Homo sapiens: one gene and its partner. The protein of the gene in region 1 purifies or fractionates together with the protein of each later gene. This does not show direct contact. Each region holds a gene or a part of one and is shown on either strand. Other genes may lie near its edges.

Evidence for each region. The genes of interacting proteins can lie anywhere in the genome.
Region 2: the proteins of SPEN (region 1) and BPGM fractionate together in Homo sapiens (co-fractionation; one large-scale study listed by BioGRID). This does not show direct contact.

The regions. Positions count from the first base shown.
Region 1 is NC_000001.11:15,849,636-15,855,201, forward strand, and holds part of SPEN (msx2-interacting protein), read left to right. Parts: intron 1-5,566. UniProt on the Homo sapiens protein: May serve as a nuclear matrix platform that organizes and integrates transcriptional responses. In osteoblasts, supports transcription activation: synergizes with RUNX2 to enhance FGFR2-mediated activation of the osteocalcin FGF-responsive element (OCFRE).
Region 2 is NC_000007.14:134,670,853-134,674,352, forward strand, and holds part of BPGM (bisphosphoglycerate mutase), read left to right. Parts: intron 1-3,500. UniProt on the Homo sapiens protein: Plays a major role in regulating hemoglobin oxygen affinity by controlling the levels of its allosteric effector 2,3-bisphosphoglycerate (2,3-BPG). Also exhibits mutase (EC 5.4.2.11) activity.

The sequences.
Region 1 (5,566 bases):
AGCAAAAATTCACCTCTGTGCCCTAGGATGAAGGGGAGACCACGGGCTGGATTGGGAAGCAGATGGGAACTTTCTCTTCCTGGCGCTGCTCCACCCCTTACCCGCCCCCCACCTCCTGGCTTCTCCTCGAGTATCGTCAGTGTTTTGATGGAAAAATCATTTAGGTGTACATTATTGGAGTGGAAAAACCACTTAGATGTGCTCACTTTAATCCCCTGTGGACTTTCTCTGTAGGTCTCTGCCTGGGAAATTCGTATGCACCGATGTACAAGCACGTGCATTGCAGCATTCGCTCGCTCCTCAGTGTTATGTGCCTAGACGTGTCATTTCTCATTATGCAGATTCCAGAGACATTGCATGCTTATGGCTGGGAGTTTGGCCCCTCTGCAAGATGAGGGGGCAGAGAGAAGAAAGAGGAAATCGTCCCAGGCAGCTTTGGAAGGGTTCTTAGTGGACGGTGCTGCGGTCTGGCTTGTGTGAATGACTTTCTAAAATGGCGGCCAGGACCCACTTTATGTGGGAATCAGCAGAGCCGATCTCAGAATGCACAGAGGGAGGAGGGGGCGGAGGATTCGAGCTGCCTTGGAAAGCGGCAGTCTGGAGGAACATTACTGTATTAAAAACGGCTTAGCTGGCAGTTTGCTCACGACTGCATTCAAAGGAGTATCTTACCTATTGCAGAGTAAAAGCAGATGCTACTGATAAAAGCAGGTTATTTTAAAACTAAGCAGATCATGTGTCCCTGAAATTCTTTTATTTTAAAGGTTTTTTTTTTTCATTTTTAAACAAATCTATTTAGTTGTTTAAATAGACAGTACATTTTTATGGGTTCAAAGCATGTGAAAGGTATACAGAGAAAAATCTCCACCCCTGACCCTGGAATTCCCAGTTGCCACACTTCCTCCCCTCACCCCCCAAAATCCAGGTAATGTCTATTTCTGGTTTCTTGTTTATCTTTCTGCATGTACAAGAAATGTTCCTGCTGATCCAGCTGTGGAGCTAAGTGGACCTTGTTTGGAGGAACTCAAGGCCTTTTATCCCTATTGTGGGATATATTTTGTAAAATGTGTGATTGCTACTAGGAGTAAAAGTGAAATCTGAATAATTTAAGTGAAAGGAATAAAAAGGTAGTTGTACCAGAACGATGGCTCTGCAAGAAAATGAAATGGTATTCACTTCTGGTGTCTTGTACAAATCAGAATGAGAAAAACCATGCAATACCTATATTAAAACTGAACTTTAAGTGCCTACTCTTATCCTTTTCCCTAGCTGATTACATTAATAACTGTTTTACAGGATTAAGAGGTGTACACTGGGAATACATTATATAAAACGTTTTCAAGATGAATGTTCTCTTAACAGTGATTAGGCTTTTGTAGTAAGTGTTTGCATTTTACAAAAAGATTAAACCAGACAGCTTTGGGGACAGCTTAGAGACATTTTAACAGAAAAAAGAGGTCAGTCAGTTCTTTAAAAATTTTTATATTTATTTTTAAATTTACATTCTGATTAGTTTTGTTTGTTTGTTTGTTTTTAAATGGACAGTAGATTGAGGGGTGGATGGCGATTTGGCTTTTTCCTCCCCAGTGCCAAAGAAAGACCAAATCCTTAAAACATAATCAGAACATTTACAAAAATTGGCTTTTCTTTTCTTGCAATAATAATAAATCTGTTGTTATTTTTACAGTTTTCAGTTTGCGGATTTAAAAAAATTAAATGAGAACTATTTCTGAATCGGGTTTTAGTTAACAAAGATTCATTACAGGGACACAATAGAGAAAGTCCTTTCCTTTGTATGTTAGCTGGGTTGAAGGGGGAAGGGAGGAGTTATACAATTGGTTCCTGTCTTTTAGTTATGAGAGGGAGAGAGGTGTCTGCAAAGGCGACTCCTTGAATTAGAATGAGCAAATGAATAAAACCCTTAAAATATTTAACATCTTTATCTTTTCAGATTTTAAGTAAGTTGCGAATTTAGTTCTTCCCATCCATCTCCAGTTTTAGAGACTAGGTTAAAGATTATGCGGAGGTAAACTGAGGTAGCCCCTCGTGTAAAAATATTGTTAAAGAGGCTGGGTGCGGTGGCTCACGCTTATAATCCCAGCACTTTGGGAGGCCGAGGCGGGCGGGTCACGAAGTCAAGAGTTCAAGACCAGCTTGGTGAACATGGTAAAACCCCGTCTCTACTAAAATACAAAAAATTAGCCAGGTGTGGTGGTGTGCATCTGTAGATCCAGCTACTTGGGAGGCTGAGGCAGGGGAATTGCTTGAACCTGGGAGGCGGAGGTTTCAGTGAGCTGAGATCGTGCCACTGCACTCTAGCCTGGGGGACAGAGCAAGACTCCGTCTGGGGAAAAAAAAAGAATGAGACCCATTTAAAAATGTAATTTGTTTTTGCTGATTTAAAATGTTTGATCACAGTGGTTTTCCTGAGTTAAATAGATGGAATAGCTATTACATTTTATGTATATTCAGATATCTTTACCTCTGGGACACAATATAAAATATTGAATTTCCTTTTCCTGACTACTAGGGATATTTTTAGACTTAAACAAATTTGACTCACTGTAGCCTGTATCATTGTTACGTCGCTTCTTCATTTGAGACCAGAAGGTTTCTATGAAACCACTTCTTGTCTATGGCCATACCACCCATACCACCCCCATCCCGTCTATGAAACCACCTCTGGTTTTGAATATTCTGATTTCCAATATCTATTTGCATGATAGGCTTTTGCACATTTTAAAAATAAAACAAAAAATTCAGAGTTATCTTAAAACATTAAAAATTACACAGAATAATTATAAAGCAATACAGAATAATACAGAAAAATTATACAGAATAATTATACAAAATAATAAAAAATAATAAAATGGGTTTTATTTCCCAAAAGGAACGCCCCTGGCAGATTGGAGGAAAATATAGGGCTCACTGCCAGGAAGAATGATAGTGTTTCGCTTGTGTGGAGGGCACCTTTTTCTAACTACCTTTGTTGCAGACTCGTGATTGCTGGGATTGTATTGTGTGGTATACTTATGAAGAGGTTTCAGGCTTGATTTATGGGACATTTTAAATCCTGTAAACACTAATCCTTTGGGAAAATTTATGTAGGAGGTTTTTCCAAATAGTCTTTCAAGTTTCCCTTTCCCCCTAGTTTGAAATTTTACTGAAATTTTTAAAAAATTGAAAATATTCCATGAAAACCAGCATATCCAATTGGAGACTATATATTTCTTTGCTTTTATTAATCGACTGACTGATTGATTGAGACAGAGTCACCCAAGATGGATCACGGCTCAATGCAGCCTTGACCTCCCAAGCTCAAGTGATCCTCCCACCTCAGCCTGCAAAGTAGCTAGAACCACAGGTATGTGCCACCACACTCGACTAATTTTTTATAGGGATGGAAGGTCTCCCTATGTTGCCCAGCCCTGGTCTTGAACTCCTGGGCTCAAGTGATCCTCCCACCTTGGCCTCCCAGAGTGCTGGGATTATAGGCATGAGCCAGCTTGCCCAGCCTTTGCTTTTATTTTTATTTTCATTATTTTTTTATTTTTATTTTTATTCATTTTTTTGAGATGGAGTCTCACTCTGTCACCCAGGCTAGAGTGCAGTGGCAGGATCCTGGCTCACTGCAACCTCCTCCTGGGTTCAAGCACTTCTTGTGCCATAGCCTCCTGAGTAGCTGGGACTACAGGCCCGTGCCACCATGCCTGGCTAATTTTTGTATTTTTAGTAGAGACAGGGTGTCACTGTGTTGGCCAGGCTGGTCTTGAACTCCTGACCTCAGGCGACCCACCTGCCTTAGCCTCCCAAAGTGCTGGGATTACAGGTGTGAGCCACTGTGCTGGCCTATTTTTATTTTTATTTTTATTTTTTGAGGTAGAGTCTTGCTCTGTCACCCAGGCTGGAGTGCAGTGGCTTGATCTCAGCTCACTGCAACCTCCTCCTCCTGGGTTCAAGCGATTCTCCTGCCTCAGCCTCCTGAATAGCTGGGATTATAGGCGCACACCACCATGTCTGGCTAATTTTTGTATTTTTTTTTTTTTGAGACGGAGTCTCACTCTGTCACCCAGGCTGGGCTGGAGTGCAGTGGCATGGTCTCAGCTCACTGCAACCTCTGCCTTCCCGGTTCAAGTGATTCTCCCGCTTTAGCCTCCCGAGTAGCTGGGATTACAGGCACTTGCCACCACACCAGGCTAATTTTTGTATTTTTAGTAGAGACGGGGTTTCACTATGTCGGCCAGGCTGGTCTCACTCCTGATCTCGTGATTTGTGCGCCTCGGCCTCCCAAAGTGCTGGGATTACAAGCATGAGGCACTGCGCCTGGCCTAATTTTTGTATTTTTATTAGAGTTGGGGTTTCACCATGTTGGCCAGGCTGGTCTTGAACTCCTGACCTCGAGTGATCTGCCTGCCTCTGCCTCCCAAAGTGCTGGGATTACAGGCGCCAGCCACCATGCCCGGCCTGCTTGCTTTTATTTTTAAAACATTTTTAGTGTTAGTTTGAGCTGTAGTTAACCATCCACAGTATTTAGAGTAAATAATGTAGTCTGAAAATACCTTGAGTGTATATATTCATTAAATTGGGCTCCTGAATTGTGTTATTAGATGATTTGAAATAAGTGCTGTTCAGCCCCTTGAAACACATATATTAGCCTGCTGAACAAGGAGACTAAATAAAGTACATTTATCTGTAGTTAAATTAACAATCTTCTTTACTATTTGGTTTAAATTTTTCTTTAAACTTATTATTTTTACTTGCCTTACAGCTACACATATTTTGAATGAAAATAGTGTACTCCTCTGTGGAAACCAATTAGAATGTTAATCATTTTATTAGAAAGCATGTAGTTTTTTTTTGTTTGTTTTTGAGACGGAGTTTCGCTCCTGTTGCCCAGGCTGGAGTGCAATGGTGCTATCTCGGCTCACCGCGACCTCTGCCTCCCAGGTTCAAGCAATTCTGCCTCAGCCTCCCAAGTAGCTGGGATTACAGGCATGCACCACCACACCCAGCTAATTTTGTGTTTTTAGTAGAGACGGGGTTTCTCTGTGTTGAGGCTGGTCTCGAACTCTTAACCTCAGGTGATCTGCCCACCTCGGCCTCCCAAAGTGCTGGGATTATAGGTGTGAGCCACCGCGACCGGCCAAAACCATGTAATTTTTATGTGATATCTAGCTGGTTTTTAGTGTGTGGAAATATGCTTTGCAGTGAGTGAAAAGATTTTTTGGATATAATTTTAAAGTATCTCAATATTCAGATTGTTCTCCCTACATGTATTCCTGTCTGCCAAGTTGAAGATTACAAGCATCTAAAAAAACCATAGTGGAATGGCTCTATAAAATCCTAACTTAAATTTAGTGAATTCTTGGATTTAATTACTTATGATTTCATTTTGAGTATAGAAATGAAATGAACTCTAGCATATTTAAAGATTTGTATTATATAGTTTAAGGAACTGCTCCAATCCTTAGAATTAAGGAAGATTTGTGGGAAAATTCAAATGAGAAACACTATTTCTTATCCTGTGTACCTGGTGCTAGATTTTTAGTCCAGCCTTAAATGCAAG
Region 2 (3,500 bases), on another chromosome or scaffold:
TTCTTCTTTCCTTCTCATCCTGTAGCGAATCTTTCTGTCTCTCTGACCATCTCTTCTGGTTTTCTAAAATTCAAAGATTTTGAACACTTTGGAGAAAATCAAAGAACATCTAAAGCCATTTAATTTGAATTGTTTATTTTATTGGCACTAGATGTAAACAGCTTTTTGTTCAAGGCTAAGATTCTTTTAATTCTCCTTTTTTTTTCTTGGTAAGGTCATAGGAGAGCACAGTGTTTAATCAAGGCTTCAACAATAAAAGACTAGATTTAATTTGAAAACCCAGAGAGTTCGAATTTATTCAATTCAGGTTTGCACCTAGGGTTCACTAAATCAGGTCTTGTTCATGGTACAAGGGATATAGCACCTATATGTGAATGAGACACACAAGGTCCTTTTGTGGAGCTTTTAACCTCTTTCTGAAATTTGTCTGTACTGTACCTCTGACAAAGTCCTTAGGGTGTTTTCATATATAGGCTTTATGTTTTAGGATTTTTAAATTAACATTTTGTTCTTTTTTTTTTTTTTTTGAGATGGAGTCTCGCTCTGTTGCCCAGGCTGGAGTGCAGTGGTGCAATCTGGGCTCACTGCAAGCTCCACCTCCCAGGTTCACGCCATTCTCCCACCTCAGCCTCCCAAGTAGCTGGGACTACAGGTACCCGCCACCACGCCCGGCTAATTTTGTTTTTGTATTTTTATTAGAGACGGGGTTTCACTGTGTTAGCCAGGATGGCCTCGATCTCCTGACCTCGTGATTGCCTGCCTCGGCCTCCCAAAGTGCTGGGATTATGGGCATGAGCCACCACACCCAGCCTAACATTTTATTCCTTATAGCCTTTAGTTATATGTAAAAAGTAGATTCACATAATAAATACAGCTGTAATTACTTAGTGGATCATATTACTGAATAATTTCTGGACCCTAGCAGCCAAACCATAAAAGTGTTACTTACAGTTGAATAAACATTTACTAAATCTTGCAGTGGGTAAAGCACTGTGTTGTAACAGCATGGGTGATACAGAAATGGATCAAACATTGTTCCTGCTCTCAAGGAATTTATAATCCTGGTGGGAAAAGTGAGCATTTGCACAAGCACCTCTACCAGGAGGTGCTTTAGTAGATGTACAGTGTACATAACAGTTTGTCTTTGGTTCCTGTTCCTGCTATGGTGACTTAGGGGAGGGGGTTGGTAGGTGCAAATTTGACTTCCTGAAGTTATTCCTCTATGCAGAAAATAAAGTTGTTTGACTTTCTCCCCAATTTTGGCCTTGAGCTACTTCCTGGACTTATTACCCCAAACTTTCATTATTTCTTCCTTAAAATATCCCATTATTTAAATTGACTGCAGTTAGCTCCTAGGTGCTTCTACATGAAGATTCGATACTTAAAGGCAGACTTTAAGTATTTAACACAGACTTAAAGACTTTAACACAGACTTAAAGACTTCAACACAGACTTAAAGGCAATGGTGGACCCTTAAAGACAAGGGTAGCTGTGAAGGGAAACACCACTGAGTTCTCACCCTGCACCTGCTCCTCTCCACCCTACTGTAGAACACAGTGCCTTGCCCATTGCAAGAATTTAGTGAATGTTTGTTCAACTGTAAGTAACACTATTATGGTTTGGCTGCTAGGGTCCAGAAATTATTTAGTAATATGGTCCACTAAGTAATGACAACTGTATTTAACTCCACACCACTGTGGAGAGGGGTAGGTACAGGGTGAGAACTCAGCAGTGTTTCCCTTTTCAGCCAACCCTGGAACAATATGGATTTGAACTGCATAGGTTCACTTATACATGGATTTTTTCCCAAAACAACTTGGATCAAAAATACTACACTTGCTAGATGTGAAATCTGTATATACATAAGGCTGATAGGACTAATTCAGTTTGGTTTAATATAGTTCAGATGCATTATTCTGGCCTTAGGAGCTCTGCCTGCTTAACTTTCTTAGGATGATGAATGTAACTTATGCCAAAATTGAGTAATGAGTAATGGCTTCACTGTGGTTTTTCCTAATTTGCTGTTTTAAAATTTTAGTTGGCCGGGCGCGGTGGCTCACACCTGTAATCTCAGCACTTTGGGAGGCCGAGGCGGGCAGATCACGAGGTCAGGAGATAGAGACCATCCTGGCTAACATGGTGAAACCCCATCTCTACTAAAAATACAAAAAAGTAGCCGGGTGTGGTGGCGGGCACCTGTAGTCCCAACTACTCTGGAGGCTGAGGCAGGAGAATGGCGTGAACCCAGGAGGCGGAGCTTGCAGTGAGCTGAGATCGCGCCACTGCACTCCAGCCTGGGCGACAGAGCGAGACTCCATCTCAAAAAGAAAATAATAATAATAAAATAAAATAAAACAAAATTTTAGTCACTTAAGTCTCATTGACTGATTATTAACCAGTCTAAGTATTTTAAATATTTGTAAGTAATTAGTCTGCTGTGTGAATGGCTTGAGTAGTCATTAAAGTGGAATGTTGATTTTATTTATTTATTGGAAACATTTCTATTTTTGTTGAACTCTCCTTCCTTTGTAGTTGAAATATTACGGCGGCCTTTGTTTATTTGGCTCTTTAATTTGGTCCCACACAAAAGGGACCAAACTTGAGAGTGCTGCTATTAAACAGGGGACCTGTTGGATCCGGTTAGATCTGAGGCCATGGTCAAACAAGTGAATCCCATGTATACCCAAGCCCCTTGCTGAAGACCTGGAACTCGTTTCTAAAGTCACAGACAACAACCCCTAAACATGGCCCATCATAATCGCAGTGTGTTAGCTGGGGATCAGACAAACTTATTCATTCCCTTTACCAGTCGTGGGAACACTGGATGGCATCAGCAGATGTCCATTTAGGACCCAGCCTTTCACGAGGGCAGAGCATTCATATAAACATTCTTCTCTCTCCTCCTCAGTAGTCGTGGAAATAACCATGGATAAGTCACCTGACCAGGGTTTAAATCCTGGGGATTTGGTAGTTTAAAAAGGTCCATTTTTACTGCCTTAATAGTCCTGTGAGTAGAGCAGGTTTTTATTTAACCACTCTGGATCTGTTTCCTTTTTTTTTTTTTTTTTTTTTTAAATTGAGACAGAGTCTTGCTGTGTCACCCAGGCTGGAGTGCAATGGCACAATCTCGGTTCACTGCAACCTCCACCTCCCAGGATCAAGCAATTCTCCTGCCTCAGCCTCCCAAGTAGCTGGGATTACAGGCGTCCACCACCACGCCTGGCTAATTTTTGTATTTTTAGTAGAGACAGGGTTTCACCATGTTGCCCAGGCTGGTCTTGAACTCCTGACCTCAAGTGATCCACCCACCTCAGCCTCCCAAAGTGCTGAGATTAGAGGCATGAGCCACTGCGCCCAGCCCTGTTTACTATTTTTTAACATCTTTATTGCGTTATAATTCACATACTATGCAATTCGCCATTTAAAGTATACAATTAAATGGCTTTTAGTGTATTCACAAAATTGTAAATCCATTACCACAATCAATGTTGGAACATTTT